2 separate regions of the Homo sapiens genome follow, and region 2 is linked to region 1. A link means that fine-mapping ties the variant in region 1 to the expression of a gene that starts in the linked region. Tissue or cell type: whole blood. Region 1 holds a variant in brackets; the other region holds the start of a gene. All regions are shown on one strand. Distances are from middle to middle.

The links. PIP is the estimated chance that this variant, and not a neighbour inherited with it, causes the effect.
Region 2: it holds the start of OGG1, and the variant in region 1 is fine-mapped to the expression of OGG1 in whole blood (TOPMed, PIP above 0.99). The same link has a PIP of 0.9 or more in sun-exposed skin.

The regions. Positions count from the first base shown.
Region 1 is chr3:9,841,627-9,849,728 of GRCh38, forward strand. RPUSD3 (RNA pseudouridine synthase D3) reads right to left here and starts at 2,382. Exons shown (of 9, transcript NM_173659.5): 1 at 2,264-2,382; 2 at 1,839-1,975; 3 at 573-617; 4 at 357-456. The coding sequence starts at 2,364. RefSeq lists enhancers at 2,245-2,324, 6,869-7,729. The variant G/A (reference allele first, on the strand shown) is at 3,127.
Region 2 is chr3:9,745,861-9,753,950 of GRCh38, forward strand. It overlaps OGG1 (8-oxoguanine DNA glycosylase), which reads left to right and starts at 4,092. Exons shown (of 7, transcript NM_002542.6): 1 at 4,092-4,563; 2 at 5,085-5,332; 3 at 5,910-6,089. The coding sequence starts at 4,427. It overlaps BRPF1 (bromodomain and PHD finger containing 1), which reads left to right. Exons shown (of 14, transcript NM_001003694.2): 12 at 1-70; 13 at 440-594; 14 at 1,306-2,155. The coding sequence ends at 1,489. RefSeq lists enhancers at 3,666-3,715, 3,746-3,865.

The DNA of each region.
Region 1 (8,102 bases):
CACGCGGAAAGTTTTGTTGTTGTTTTTCCAGAGATGGGGTCTATTTTGCCCAGGCTGGTCTCGAACTCCTGGGCTCAAGTGATCCTCTTGCCTTGGCCTCCAGAAGTGTTGGGATTACAGGTGTGAGTCACTGTGCCCAGCGTCAGGGAGGTGTCATGCTTTGCCTGGTATCACACCATTTGTACTTGAGGATTTGAACCCAGAGCCATCGGCTTCCTCTTCTTCACAGTACTTGTATCCACCTCTATGATCTCAAACCTTCCCATGGAAAATGTCTCAGCTTATCCCCAAGCAGCTGTTTCCCCACCACAGATGGATGCCTGTACTCCTAGCTTCCTGTCACCCCTACCACTTACTTCCCAGATGCTCGGACAACCTGAAGCTCCTGCTCCCTGAGCCCTAGGGACTGGCTCAGCTCTGGCAGCACTGAGAACAACGTCAGCTCTCCTGGTTTTCCTGGAAAGTAAGAAAGAAAAATTACAAGAGGCCAAAGCTTCATGCCTTCACTTTTCCCTCCCTCAGTCACGAAACCCCCTTCCGCTGCATTCCCTTCCCACATCCCCGGCCCATACCTGTCACTGGTAGACCCTGTGGCTTGTTCAACGTCACTAGAGGTCCTGAAACATACATCACACGAACATCAGCAAAAGCAACGGTAACCCTTTATGCAGCACTAAAGAGTTTCCAGAGCACTTTCTCACGCATCTTAGCACATGTCCCCATCATGACTCTCAGACATGAGTTAACTACCCCACACCAAATTCAACTTCTTTCTGTTCCTCTGCCACCTCAGAGCCTCGGCACTTGCTGTTTCCTGTCCCCAAATTTCCCAGGTCTGGCTCCCTATCATCTTGGCTCAAATGTCACATCACGGAGAGGTCTGAATCTCCAATCTAATGTCTGCCTTCCTCCTGCAGTTCCTCACCATCATAACACCCTGTTTTAGTTTATGCATAGCACTTACCACTAGTAACTTGTTCATTTATTTTCTGACATCCATTTCTCCCGTTAGAGAGAAATCCATTTCTCCCCTGAGAGCAGAAACCATATCTATCTTTTTCAGCACTGTATAGCCTGCCTAGAACAGTGCCTGGAACATAGCATATGTTCAAGAAATAGTTGAGAAAAGGAATAAATCACTGAATAGAGAGTGGGGTTCAGAGAAATTCAGTTATTTTCCTAAAGCCGCACAGCAAGCTGATCACAGAGCCTAGGTATGTCTGACTCCAAAGCCTGTGTTTTGTCCGTCGATAAATAATCATTATTTATTTATTTATTTATTTAGACTGAGTCTTGCTCTGTCATCCCAGGCTGGAGCGCAGTAGCACGATGTCGGCTCACTGCAACCTCTGCTATCCGGGTTCAAGTGACTCTCCTGCCTCAGCCTCCCGAGTAGCTGGGATTACAGGCGGACGCCGCCACACCTGGCTAATTTTTGTGTTTTTAGTAGAGACGGGGTTTCACCATGTTGGCCAGGCTAGTCTCGAACTCCTGACCTCAGGTGATCCGCCCGCGTCAGCACCCTAAAGTGCCGGGATTACAGGCGTGAGCCACCGCGGCCAATAAACAATAATCTAGTATAGCAACTCCCGTAACTGAGCGCCGGCTATGTGCAAGGCTCGGTAGTTATTTGCATCTTCTCCCCACTCTTAACCCTACTGCATCATGGCAGTAGGGTTAAAAGCGGGGAGAGGGTGCAAATTAGGTGGCTTGTCCCAGCTCATGCTGCTAGTGGGAGGCAGAAGCAGGGCTGATCCCGTGGCTTCAATGGAGAGCCCAACTGCACGCCGAGGCAGTCCCCTCCCGGTCCTTGTGCGGCCGTGCCTCTCACCCCTCACCTTTCCGGTCCACCACGGCTGCCCGCAGCGCATCAACCAGCTCCTCCCGACTGAGGTTTTTTGGCAGCAGCCCCGCGAAGGGCTGGTCCCCGAGGGGCCCCGACCGTTGGCAGGAGCCGCGGGGTTGCCTCTGATGCCTGGACAAGGAGGGAGAAGCAATGGGAGTCATTCCATCCCGAGGTGCCACCCATTCCTATCTCCGGACGCCTCTTCCCAAATCCTGCGGCCTCTGACAAATGCCTCACAATGTCTGGGCTGACCTCGAAAATTCAGGTACGACCGGTCCCATTCTACAGCGGAGGGCACCGAGGCTCAGAGAGGCCAACGGGGCTGTTTTCGGGTAACATCTACCTGATCCAGATCCCGCACGTGCCTTCCCCCTGCCCTAGCCTCCGTCCCGCATGAGAGAGGGGGTACTTAATCACCGGGCTTCGGTGCCAAAGCCTGCGTCCTCGGGCACTGGGCGGACACCCAGGCCCCGCCGCCAGCCACTCCAGAACCGGCCCAAAACACGGCGGCCGTCCATCTCCCGAGCCAGGACAGCGCGCATGTGCGTCCAGAGGGGCAGACCCGCGCTCCAGCCAGCGCGCTGATTGGTCAGCTGGAGTGTCAATCGGAATGGTGACCGGGCGGGACTCAGAGCCTGAGGAGGCGGGGCTTTTCCTCCGCCCAGGAAGGAAATGCAGAAATGCCTTCCTATGCTTTTAGGGAGAGCGCTGTAGCAGAAGAATTTGATCTGATCAAAAAACCTGTCTTAGCAAAAAACCTGAAGCCGCCTTTGCAAAAATTATATTACAAAATTATGACAGCGAAAGAGATCTGATCTAACCAACCCGCAGCTTGCCTTTAACCTCTAAACGGTCCTTGGTCATTCCTGGGCTTGGGCCAAGCTAACTTTGGGAGAAATTAGTTCGTAGTCTAAATGATAATTGCCCTTCCCCCGAACTAAACTGGCTTCATAGAGTTAATGAAAGGCCACCAGGTTAGGAGTAGTAGAGGGACCTGAATTCTGCTAAGGGTTAGAGGTAACTGATTACCAGCGGTTATTCCGGAGGTCACAGTGTTTGCAGCTTCCCCAGCTCACGATTGTCCAACCTGAGATTGGCCTTTGGAGATGTCTTTCCAGGCTTTTGCATTTCTGACGGCCGGATCACCCCACCCGGACCCTCAACTCTTGGCTCTACTAGTCCTGTGGCCCCTCGAAGTCAGGAGATCGAGACCATCCTGGCTAACACGGTGAAACCACGTCTCCACCAAAAATACAAAAAAATTAGCCGGGCGTGGTGGC[G/A]GGCGCCTGTAGTCCCAGCTACTCGGGAGGCTGAGGCAGGAGAATGGCGTGAACCCGGGAGGCGGAGTTTGCAGTGAGCCGAGATCGTGCCACTGCACTCCAGCCTGGGCGACGAGCGAGACTCCGTCTCAAAAAAAAAAAAAAAAGAAAAAAGAAAAAGAAAGTAGAAGAACACAGAAAAAAAAGAATAATATAATGACTGCCCACATTCCTACCATCAGAATTAGTCATTGTGAAACAATATATATATGTATAGGTTTCCTGTTTTTCTTGTTTAAGAAATGAAAGGGATAAAAGTAAATTCCCCTTTACTGCGTGCTTCCAGTTTTCACTCCCTCCCCAGTCTCCACTTTGAGTTTGGTGTGAACATTTTCCTAATGTGTTTTGGTTTTTGTTTTTTGGAGACAGAGTCTCGCTCTGTCACCCAGGCTAGAGTGCAGTGGCCCGATCTCGACTCACTGCAACTTCCACCTCCCGGGTTCAAGCGATTCCCCTGCCTTTGCCTCCTGAGTAGCTGGAATTACAGGTGCGGTGCCCGCCACCACACCCGGCTAATTTTTTGTATTTTAGTGACGGGGTTTCACCATGTCGCCCAGGCTGGTCTCGAACTCCTGAGCTCAGGCAATCCGCCCGCCTTGGCCTCCCAAAGTGCTAGGATTACAGACGTGAGCCACTGTGCCCGGCCACTAATGTGTTTTTTTGCTTGCTCTGTCATCCAGGCTGGAGTGCAGTGGCACAATCACAGCTCACTGCAGCCTCAACCTCCCAGGCTCAAACGATCCTCCCACTTCAGTCTCCTGAATAGCTGGGACTACAGGTGTGCACCACCATACCTAGCTTTTTTTTTTTTTTTTTTTTTTTTTAAAGATATGGGGTCTCACGATGTTGCCCAGGCTGGTCTCAAACTCCTGGGCTCAAGATAAGAAAATAAAAATAACAAAATAATTTTTAAAAAATCAAACTCCTGGGTTTAAGGGATTCACCCACCTACTTCGGCCTCCCAGAGTGCTGGGATTAAAGGCCGCACGGGGCCTTTGACAGACACTTCTTTTTTTTTTTCCTTCGAGATGGAGTCTCACTCTGTCACCCGGGCTGGAGTTCAGTGGCACGATCTTGGCTCACTGCAACCTCTGCCTCCTGGGTTCAAGCAATTCTCCTGCCCCAGCCTCCCAAGTAGCTGATACTACAGGCATGCACCATCATACCTGCCTAATTTTTTGTATTTTTTAGTAGAGATGGGGTTTCACCATGTTGACCAGGCTGGTCTCAAACTCCCGACCTCAGGTGATCCACCTGCCTCAGCCTCCCAAAGTGTTGGGATTACAGGTGTGAGCCACCGTGCCCGGCCTTTGACGGACACTTTCTAATAGGCTTTTTCATCCAGCATTACACACCCCTATGAGGAAGGCAGGGTGGGTTGGGGCCCTGCCTTACAGATGAGGACACAGTGGCTGTTGTGGTTCTTTGTGTCCCTTAAAGGCATGCCAAAAGCTATGGGTGGGCTCAGAATGCCCCGGAAGGAAGTCAGATAACTGAAAAGAACACTTGCACTGGTCACAGGAAAACCAGCCTGAGCTGCCGGCAGCCTCTGGGAGGTGTTGGGATGGCCTGCCCCTGGTTTCCATGCGGGTCCTGACCCAGAGAGCAGGCCCCAGGGGAGTGGGGGTCAGCAGAGGCAGGATGGGGCCCGGTCTGCTTGTGAGGGAGTGCTGGGAGGGTGGAGTCTCACTCTTGAGGCACAGAGCTCAGCCAGCGGAAGAGGGGATGCAGGGATCAAGCCCCAGGCCCTGGGGCCTGAGGTGTGAGAGCTGTCTTTGATGGTTGAAGCCAGCCTTCCCAGGCCAGGCCAGGCCAGGCTGCTCTCTCTCCCCGAGGATGCATTTCTTGCTCTGTTATCAGCCCTGAGCTCTGAGAGAAGGGACTTTCTTTTTTTTTTTTTGAGACAGAGTCTTGCTCTGTTGCCCAGGCTGGAGTACAATGGCGTGATCTCGGCTCGCTACAACCTCTGCCTTCTGGGTTGAAGCGATTCTCTAGCTGCAGCCTCCCAAGTAACAGAGATTACAGGCGCCTGCCACCACACCCTGCTAAGTTTTGTATTTTCAGTAGAGAAAGGGGTTCACCATGTTGACCAAGCTGGTCTTGAACTCCTGGCCTCAAGTTATCCACCCGACTCGGCCTCCTAAAGTGCTGGGATTACTGTCATGAGCCACTGAACCTGGCCAGGAGGGACTTTCTTAAGAAGGTCACAAGAGGACTCAGCACCTGCCAACTCCCAAGTAGAGCCTGGGCAGGGGTGGGAGGTGTCCCCGGGGACCCCAGTGCACGAGAGCCCTGTGCCTGCACGGCCCTCCACCAGGAGGCCAGGCCTCAGAGGCAGGCCAGCATTGGAGCCACTTACCACATGAACAAATGTCTGTGTCCCCCCAAACTCATGTGTTGACACCTCATCCCCAAGGTGATGGCATCTGGAGGTGGCATCTTTGGGAGGTGATGGGGTCATGAGGGTGGGGCCCTTGTGGTTGGGATTAGCGCCCTTATACAAGAGGCCCCAGAGAGCTCCCTCGCCCCTTCCGCCATGTGACCACAGTGGGAAGATGGCAGGCATGACCCAGAAAGTGGGCCCTCACCAGACACCCTGTATGCCAGCTGATCTTGGACTGCCAGCCTCCAGAACTGTGAACATTATATTGCTGTTGTTAGAGAGACCCAATTTACAGTATTTTGTCACAGCAGCCCCAACAGACTAAGACGTATGACTGCAAGCTCTGAAAATGCAGCCAACACCACATGTTGGAATCATGATATTTGGGATGTGTTGGGGTAAACCACATGCATTAGTAAAATAAACTGTTCAACACCTGTGAAAAGGAGAGAAAAAATATAAATAAATGAAATAAACTATTACTTTCTGAAGGGGTGGGTTGTCCCTCCACACCTGTGGGTGTTTCTTGTTAGGTGGAACGAGAGACTTGGAAAAGAAAAAGACACAGAGACAAAGTATAGAGAAAGAAATAAGGGGGCCCAGGGGACCAGCGTTCAGCATATGGAGGATCCCGCCAGCCTCTGAGTTCCCTTAGTATTTATTGATCATTCTTGGGTGTTTCTCGGAGAGGGGGATGTGGCAGGGTCATAGGATAATAGTGGAGAGAAGGTCAGCAGATAAACACGTGAACAAAGGTCTCTGCATCATGGACAAGGTAAAGAATTAAGTGCTGTGCTTTAGATATGCATACACATAAAACATCTCAATGCCTTACAGAGCAGTATTGTTGCCCGCATGTCCCACCTCCAGCCCTAAGGCGGTTTTCCCCTATCTCAGTAGATGGAACATACAATCGGGTTTTATACCGAGACATTCCATTGCCCAGGGGACATTCCATTGCCCGGGGACGGGCAGGAGACAGATGCCTTCCTCTTGTCTCAACTGCAAAGAGGCATGCCTTCCTCTTTTACTAATCCTCCTCAGCACAGACCCTTTACAGGTGTCGGGCTGGGGGACGGTCAGGTCTTTCCCTTCCCACGAGGCCATATTTCAGACTATCACATGGGGAGAAACCTTGGACAATACCTGGCTTTCCCAGGCAGAGGACCCTGCGGCCTTCCGCAGTGTTTGTGTCCCTGGGTACTTGAGATTAGGGAGTGGTGATGATTCTTAACAAGCATGCTGCCTTCAAGCATCTGTTGAACAAAGCACATCTTGCACCGCCCTTAATCCATTTAACCCTGAGTGGACACAGCACATGTTTCAGAGAGCACGGGGTTGGGGGTAAGGTTATAGATTAACAGCATCTCAAGGCAGAATAATTTTTCTTAGTACAGAGCAAAATGGAGTCTCCTATGTCTACTTATTTCTACACGACACAGTAACAATCTGATCTCTCTTTTCCCCACATTTCCCCCTTTTCTTTTCGACAAAACTGCCATCATCATCATGGCCCGTTCTTGATGGTCGCTGTCTCTTCAGAGCTGTTGGGTACACCTGCAGACTTGAACAACAGACAAAACAGGCACACAAGGATTAATATGAAATTTATAATCGTAGTACTTCCAATCGTCTTAACCCAAGTGACAGGGTTAAGATTTGTGAGGCCATCAGCAACTCCTGCGATTGCCTCAGTTCCTGGCACCAAATTTAAATGGGCTTTTGATGTTTTGAAAATTTGTTCTTTTAATTTGGAAATGTCTAAAGTGAGATTATCTTCTCTTGCCTGTAGATGGCGTCTAACCATGTCCCAGTGATGCTCAGACTCATTACAACTTGGGGTGTAATACAAAAATCTGACATATTCCAGTCACATTGTAACTGGAAACGATGTTCTAAGCTCATGAGCCTGTCTCCCATCCAAATGACAGTTTGTCTAAAATCATTAATTTGATTTGCCAATTTTTGATCAATACCAGATTGTGAATTCCACAATCTTGTAGCATTTTTTTGCCAATCATTAACAAAGTTTACTGACTGAACAGAAGAGTGCAGCGCAACTCCTGCCACAGCAGCCGTAGCTGTGACTGCAATTAATCCCATAAGCACTGTAATTAAAGTAAAAATGAATCTTTTGGATCTATTTAAAATGGCTTTTAATATTCAGTCAAAATATGGACGGATGGCGAGGCCTCCCACGGTCGGTCCATGGACACAGGGATCCACACGCCCTCTCTTGCTCTCACCAGCAGAATACGGTGCTGCCGATTAAAAGTCGAATCAATGCAAGTAAACTATCTACTTTTTACAGGTTATAGTTTGAGAGTCTGGTTTAATAACTATATTTCCTACAACTAGCATATAAGGGGGCTTTACACAACTTTGTAAAGGAACCGTTAGACTGGAATTTAGGTCGATAGTATAAAACGGCTGATGATCTCTTGTTTCTAAAGTTTGATTTCCAGACCAAATCCTAATGTGGTATGAGGCTACAGTAAGCCTCCATAATTCTGGATGTTCAGGACCAGAAACAGGACTTATTATTTTTGGTCTT
Region 2 (8,090 bases), 96 kb before region 1:
GGACTCCCCGCTGGATGCTCTGGACCTCGTGTGGGCCAAATGCCGAGGCTATCCATCATACCCAGCTCTGGTATGCTTGCTTCTGTTACACTTCTTGCTTTCCAATCCCAGAATACAGATTCACAGTTAGCAGACTTTTCCTACTCCCTGCTGAGCTGTGGGGCACAGAGTTTCTTGGTAAGGTAGACTGGTGGGCAGATACAGCTTGAGTACCACTTAGAGGCTCCCACTCAGTTTCTCCATCTCTCCCTTTTGCTTCTCTTTGCTCCTTGGGCTCTGAAATAATTTAGCATGGAAAGAAGCTGAGGGTCAGCATTGCAGTTCTAGTAGCATGATACCCTCTCTGTCCCCACTTCAGACATACTCTCTAAGTTCTTGAGGAGGAAAAGCCTTGGGAGGACATGGACTGAACCAAACTGGGCTCTTATTATATCCTCAGATCATTGATCCAAAGATGCCCCGAGAAGGTATGTTCCACCATGGGGTTCCCATCCCTGTGCCCCCACTGGAGGTGCTGAAACTTGGGGAGCAGATGACCCAGGAAGCCCGAGAGCATCTCTACCTCGTCCTCTTCTTTGACAACAAACGAACCTGGTAAGGAGGGGAGCATTTGGTGTGACTCACAGCCACAGATGCAGCCCTGTGTGGTATGGGGGCAGACTGCCAGGAAACTCCAGCAACAGGCAGACTGGGCTATCACAAGTCAGTGGGGGAGGGACTTAGAACAGTTTTTTGAGCGAAAGGGTTGTGTCGACCATGTGTCTGAGAGGCTGAGTGGGCACTAGTGGACACAGCTATAGCTAGAAACCAAAGGACCATCAGAGACTTATGACAAATATAGAGGTGGCTCCCACCCAGACTCAGATGGCTTCTAGACTTAGTTTTCCCACCTCTGCCTCCACAGTGACAAAATGAGGATAAAGCAGGCATAAACATTCAGGCTCTGAATCCCTGTTCTGTCACATTTACACATGTAGTCTTTTTGTTAATTGTCTGCAGAGGATATTCAATGTCAGTAAAGTCTGCCTAGAGCCTATGGCACAGGGTAGCTATTTCTGGTGAGGTCAGGGTGCCTCCTTTTTGTACCCATAAATACCCTGTGATTACCCTCCCGCCGCCACCACACAGTATAACTGTTGACTGGGCTCTTTCATCTCTAGACCATGAACAGTCCTTTGAGGGCAGGGACCATCACAGAGTCTGGCCAGAGTGGGTGCTTGGGTGGTGTGTTTGAGTGAATAGAGGAGGAAGGCTGGTCCTTGTTCTCCCTGAGATGATTTATTTGATCTTCACCTTATCCTATAGGCAGTGGCTGCCCAGGACCAAGCTGGTTCCTCTGGGTGTGAACCAGGACCTAGACAAGGAGAAGATGCTGGAGGGCCGCAAGTCCAACATCCGCAAGTCAGTACAGATCGCCTACCACAGGGCTCTGCAGCACCGCAGCAAGGTGCAAGGCGAGCAGAGCAGTGAGACCAGCGATAGTGATTGATACTGCTCAACACAGCCCAACCTATAGTGCCCTGTGACTTCTCTCCTCCCCTTTGCTCACTGTCCTGGAGTGGCACCGGCCTCTGCACTGACTCATTTCTGGTCTTGGGGCCAGTCTCAGGGGAAGCTGGGTGGGGGAGGTCCCTCCTGCCCTAAGTGCAGCTGGACTGTACAGAACACTCCAAGGGCCAATGGCAGTTCAGCGCAAGGAGAGGGAGGGCCCACAGGTCAGAAAAAGCTCCAGAGACCTCACAGCATTGTAGGGCGGGGTGGTGGGCCAAAGTTAGGACACTGCGTAAAACAGGCCATCCCACCACCTCTACCTGCTCATGCCAGGAGAATCCATAACTGCCTAGAGGCCTGGGGCCCCTACCGGTCGTGAGGTGAGTGGGCATCTGTCCAGCCTGGAAGAGGGGCACTAGGTGACTCCCTCCCCTGCTGTTGTAAATACTGTAATTATCGGAGAATTTAAATTATTCTCATTTGTAACTGCGTTTCCGGGTCGCGCCAGAGTCATTTGGTACTAAAAAAAAAAAAAAAAAAGACTGGGGGCTGTCCCCATTTCCCTTCTCTTTCCCATAGATTCCCCCACCTTTCAAACTGGTTTGTATTTATTTCAAAGGAAGAAAATATATTGATTCTTAGAAAATAAACTGTCAATTTAGAATTCTTTGTTCTTGCCCCCTGCCAGGGCAAAGGGGATACAAAGGGAGGTTCTGTGCCCCAGGGATGATACATAATTGGGCCCAAGTGGTTGCTGACTGCTGTGCATGCTACATTTCATAAGACACAGCAAAGAGAGCCCCTGTTGCCCATGCATGGAGTGAGTGGCAGGCCCTGTGTTGAGCACCTTTAGACATTCAGCTTTGCGTAATCCTTGCAATAACTATAGGGTAGTTTAATAATAGACTGGTTATCTCCACAAAGATGCTGAAGTTTCAAAAAATTATCTTGCCTAAGTTCCTACAACTAGGAAGGTGCAGAGCTAGAATTGGAACCCAGGTCTGTTTGCAAACCTGGCTCTTCAACCAGTATGCTGAACTGCCAGGGGAAGAGTCAACTATCGATTCCTACTTGGCCCTTAGAGGCCTCAAGTCCTTTGCCAGTGGCATGGCCCAAGTGTTTCAGCATCAATACAGCTGAGACCTTCCCCACTGCTTAACCGGAGACAGAGCTGGGATGGAGACGGTTGCTCTTTGCTCACCCCCAACCTCAGCACCTTCTTTCCAGACTCCACCGACATTTATTGAAGGAATGCCTTCCAAGTGCTAGGCGCCTGTGGGATGGCATGCCTACAGATAGGAACAGTCACAGGAAGAAGGGGCGGCCCAGGCCTTGCAGCCACTGAGGACTGGCACTGAGACAATGATGGCACTGGTCTGATGTTGATTCCATGCTGACGGTACACTCCGCTAGGTCTCTGGCTGGGACACAAGGGTCAATCCGCTGCAGATGTTGCTCTTCAAGAATTTGCAGTCTGGGCGGGGTGCGGTGGCTCACGCCTGTAATCCCAACACTTTAAGAGGCCGAGGCGGCTGGATCACGAGGTCAAGAGATCGAGACCATGCTAGCCAACATGGTGAAACCCCATCTCTACTAAAAATACAAAAATTAGCTGGGCGTGGTGGCGCGCACCTGTAGTCCCAGCTACTCGGGAGGCTGAGGCAGGAGAATCGCTTGAACCCGGGAGGCGGAGCTTGCAGTGAGCCGAGATCGCGCCATCACACTCCAGCCTAGGCGACAGAGTGAGACTCCGTCTCAAAGAAAAAAAACTTGCAGCCTGATAGTTAAGATACAGCAACCCCAAATCCCTATGCTAAAAGGTGAGAATGGCCCAGATAAAGGTCATGTCTCCTAGCTCCCTGCTTTTTCATGCCATCCTCCAGAAGGGAAGAAATTAAATAATCCATCCTCCTACTCCAGGCGACTAGAAGGCAGGCTGCCTCAGGGCCACACACTGGGACTTGGACTCAACCTGATGGGCTTCTGGGCCCAGCCCCAGACAAACCCCCGGCAAACGTCCCATTCCGAGGAAAGCATGAGCAGATGGAGTATGGAAGAAATGCCCAAGACGGCAGGCAGCAGCTGTGGCGGCCGGCGGGACGACAATCCGAGGAGAGGCCTCTGATGTCCTGAGGTCTCAGAGGACGCCTAAAGGCCTTGAATGGGACAAGCTTAGCGGGCGGGCGCAGAAGAGAATAATACTCTGGAGACACTTCCCGAGGGCTCTGGGGCCGGAGCTGTGTTCGCTCCGGTTCTTGGTGAAGACAGGGTTCGTGGGAGGCGGCCCAAGGAGGGCGAACGCCTAAGACTGCAAAGGCTCGGGGGAGAACGGCTCTCGGAGAACGGGCTGGGGAAGGACGTGGCTCTGAAGACGGACAGCCCTGAGGAACCGCGGGGCGCCCAGATGGAACTCGTTAGCGCCCCGAGTGCAGACAATCCCGGAGGGGGAAAGGCGAGCAGCTGGCAGAGAGCCCAGTGCCGGCCAACCGCGCGAGCGCCTCAGAACGGCCCGCCCACCCTGATTTCTCATTGGCGCCTCCTACCTCCTCCTCGGATTGGCTACCTCTAGGTGAAATGAGCGGTGGTTGAGCCCTACTTCCGGTGGTGCTGTGGTCTGCCCCTGGAGAACCCAGAAGAACACAGCTGTGCGCGCCCACAGGCTCTGGGGGCGGGAGAAGATAAGTCGCAAGGAGGGGGCGGGACCTACACCTCAGGAAAGCCGGAGAATTGGGGCACGAAGCGGGGCTTTGATGACCCGCAAAGGGCGAGGCATGCAGGAGGTGGAGGAATTAAGTGAAACAGGGAAGGTTGTTAAACAGCACCGTGTGGGCGAGGCCTTAAGGGTCGTGGTCCTTGTCTGGGCGGGGTCTTTGGGCGTCGACGAGGCCTGGTTCTGGGTAGGCGGGGCTACTACGGGGCGGTGCCTGCTGTGGAAATGCCTGCCCGCGCGCTTCTGCCCAGGCGCATGGGGCATCGTACTCTAGCCTCCACTCCTGCCCTGTGGGCCTCCATCCCGTGCCCTCGCTCTGAGCTGCGCCTGGACCTGGTTCTGCCTTCTGGACAATCTTTCCGGTGAGTGACTGAGCCTGAGAAGCCTGTCCCCTCGGACTGGCTCCTGCCGCCTCAACACTGCCTGGCATGGGGTACAAAGGAATTTGGGGGATGATGGAAGAAACCCGGGGTACAAAAGAGGAAACAAGCACGGGTAGCCAACCTGTTACCTTTAATATGTCTGTACAGTGATAATTGTAAGGATCCAGCGGTATAACCGATGCAGAAGATAATAGCACTTGTTTTTCTTTTTTTGAGACAGGGTCTCGCTCTGTTGCCCAGGTAGGAATGCAGAGAGGCCCATTCCAGCCTCGACCCCCCGGGCGCAGCCTCCCGAGTAGCTGGGACTACAGGTGTGCGCCATGCCCGGTTAAATTTTTGTATTTTTTGTAGAGGTGAGGTTTCGCCATGTTGCTCAGACTGGAAGATAGCACTGTTACTTGTATTAGTTTCGTACATGGAGCTATTGTAGGATAGGAGGGACCCCAAAGGGTGCAAGAAAGGAAATTGAGTGCCAGGGTTGTCATGTGCCTTGGGCTCAGGTGGAGGGAGCAAAGTCCTGCACACTGGAGTGGTGTACTAGCGGATCAAGTATGGACACTGACTCAGACTGAGGAGCAGCTCCACTGCACTGTGTACCGAGGAGACAAGAGCCAGGCTAGCAGGCCCACACCAGACGAGCTGGAGGCCGTGCGCAAGTACTTCCAGCTAGATGTTACCCTGGCTCAACTGTATCACCACTGGGGTTCCGTGGACTCCCACTTCCAAGAGGTGGCTCAGAAATTCCAAGGTGAGTACAGGACCTGGGCTGGGGTTAGGGTTCTTGGACATAAGTCACTTCTCTATGACTCAGTTTTGCCACCTGTAAAATGGGGATTATATCTACTTCATAGGCTTTTATGAGGATTTAAGGAACTAATACATGTAAAGTGCTTAGAATAATGCCAGGCACATAGTAAGTATTATTACCATTATTATTATCCTGCTAATCACCATAGTGAAGTGACAAGGATTTTGAGCCCATTCCTGGTTGTGTGACCTAGGGCAAGTGATTTCATTCATTCTGTAAATATATACAAAGCATCTGCTGTGTGACCGGGGATACACCAGTGAACAAAACAGACCCAAATGCCAGTCCTCATGGAGCTTACATTGTGGCCTCTTTATCTGTGGAATGGGATGGTAACTCAGCCCTCACAAGATGCTATGAGGAATGAGAGGTCTGGTGTTGCTTTCTCTAACGGTGCTGACTCTCATTCTCCTGGGATCCTCCTGGAGTTTTGGTACCTAGGATCTGACCTGTGGGTGGGAAGAGGCCACACCCAACAGCAGGTACCTCTCCTACCCCCTGCATTTCTGGTCTCCAGGTGTGCGACTGCTGCGACAAGACCCCATCGAATGCCTTTTCTCTTTTATCTGTTCCTCCAACAACAACATCGCCCGCATCACTGGCATGGTGGAGCGGCTGTGCCAGGCTTTTGGACCTCGGCTCATCCAGCTTGATGATGTCACCTACCATGGCTTCCCCAGCCTGCAGGCCCTGGCTGGTGAGTAGGTGGGTCCCCTGCCCCCAGGCCTTCCATCAGCTTTCAAGATCTGTTCATTTCTCCCCTGGTTACCTTCTCAAGGCTTCCTGCCTTCCCAAACACTTCCCCTATCCAGAACCGCCCTGCCTGGTCTGATCAACTCCAGTTACTCATCCTCCCTATGCATCCCTAAAATGTCAGCACCTCACTGGTCTGTGCTTTTTGCCCAATGGGTTCAATGCCTAATCAGAAAAATATCTGTATACAATGTACAGTAGTTTGGGGTTAAGAGCATGCATTCTGGGGACAGACCCATGCCTGGTTCTGAACCCCAACTCTCACTTGGGCACATTATTTAGCATCTCTGTACTAAAGTTTCTTCATCTGTGAAGTAGAATAATAATAGCACCTACCTATGCTATTATTGGAGTTGTCATGAGGGTTGAAGAAAGGAATATACATACTGCACCTAGCACAGTGTTTGGCACACAGGAAGTATATGTAAAATTCAAGCTGGTATCAGCCAGGCGCAGTGGCTCACACCTGGCTAACACAGTGAAACCCCGTCTCCAGCCTGGGCAACAGAGCGAGACTCTGTCTCAAAAAAAAAAAAAAAAAAAAAAATTCAAGCTGGTATCATTGTAGTGAATGGGATAGTTTTGTATCTAAGAACACGTGTGTTCTTCACAGTAGCCCTGTAAGGCAAATGTTTTACAGAGGCAAGTGTATCGATTGGCAGATGTGAGAACCAAGCTAGGACAAGTGCTTGGGAACTGCATAGCAAAGAGACAGACTGCCTCAAAACAGGAGAATGTTTTTGGTGCTTAGAAACCCATTCCTGGCCGGGCGTGGTGGCTCACGCCTGTAATCCCAACACTTTGGGAGGTCGAGGCAGGCAGATCATCTGAGGTCAGGAGTTCAAGACCAGCCTGGCCAACATGGTGAAACCCCATCTCTACTAAAAATACGAAAATTAGTCAGGCGTGATGGCAGGCACCTGTCCCAGCTACTCCGGAGGGTGAGGCAGGAGAATTGCTTGAACCCGGGAGCAGGAGGCTCCAGTGAACCAAGATCAGACCACAGCACTCCAGCCTGGGTTACAGAGCGAGACTCCATCTCAAAACAAACAAAAAGAAACCTGGGTCAGGCACGGTGGCTCACACCTGTAATCCCAACACTTTGGGAGGCTGAGGCAGGTGGATCACCTGAGGTCGGGAGTTTGAGACCAGACTGGCCAACCTGGTGAAACCCGCTCTCTGCTAAAAATTAGCTGGGCGTGGTGGCAGGTACCTGTAATCCCAGCTACTCAGGAGGCTGAGGCGGGAGAATCATTTGAACCTGGGAAGCAGAGGTTGCAGTGAGCTGAGATCATGCCATTGCACTCCAGCCTGGGCGACAGGGCGACAGGGCGAGACTCCGTCTCAAAAAAAAAAAAAAAACCTGGCCGGGCGTGGTGGCTCACACCCGTAATCCCAGCATTTTGGGAGGCCGAGGCGGGTGGATCACGAGGTCAGGAGATCAAGACCATCCTGCCTAATACGGTGAAACCCCGTCTCTACTAAAAATACAAAAAAAATTAGCCGGGTGTGGTGGTGGGCGCCTGTAGTCCCAGCTACTTGGGAGGCTGAGGCAGGAGAATGGCGTGAACCCGGGAGGCGAAGCTTGCAGTGAGCCGAGATCGTGCCACTGCACTCCAGCCTGGGCGACAGAGTGAGACTCTGTCTCAACAAAAAAAAAAAGAAACCTGTTCTTGAGTCTCAGCTCCTGGCTTAGTTAGTCATAAGGCCTCAAGAAAGTCATTCACCTCTTCCGGCTTCTCTTAGCTTGTTTGTAGAATGGGAATAACAGTTTCTATCTAGAAGGGCTTTGGGAGTGAATAAAGCAATCATGAGGCAGTGTAGTGTAATGGGTTAAGAGCACGGCGTTAGCCAGGTGGGGTAGCTCATGCTGGTAATTTCAGCACTTTTGGGAGCCCAAGGTGGGAGGATGGCTTGAGCCCAGGAGTTTGAGACCAGCCTGGGC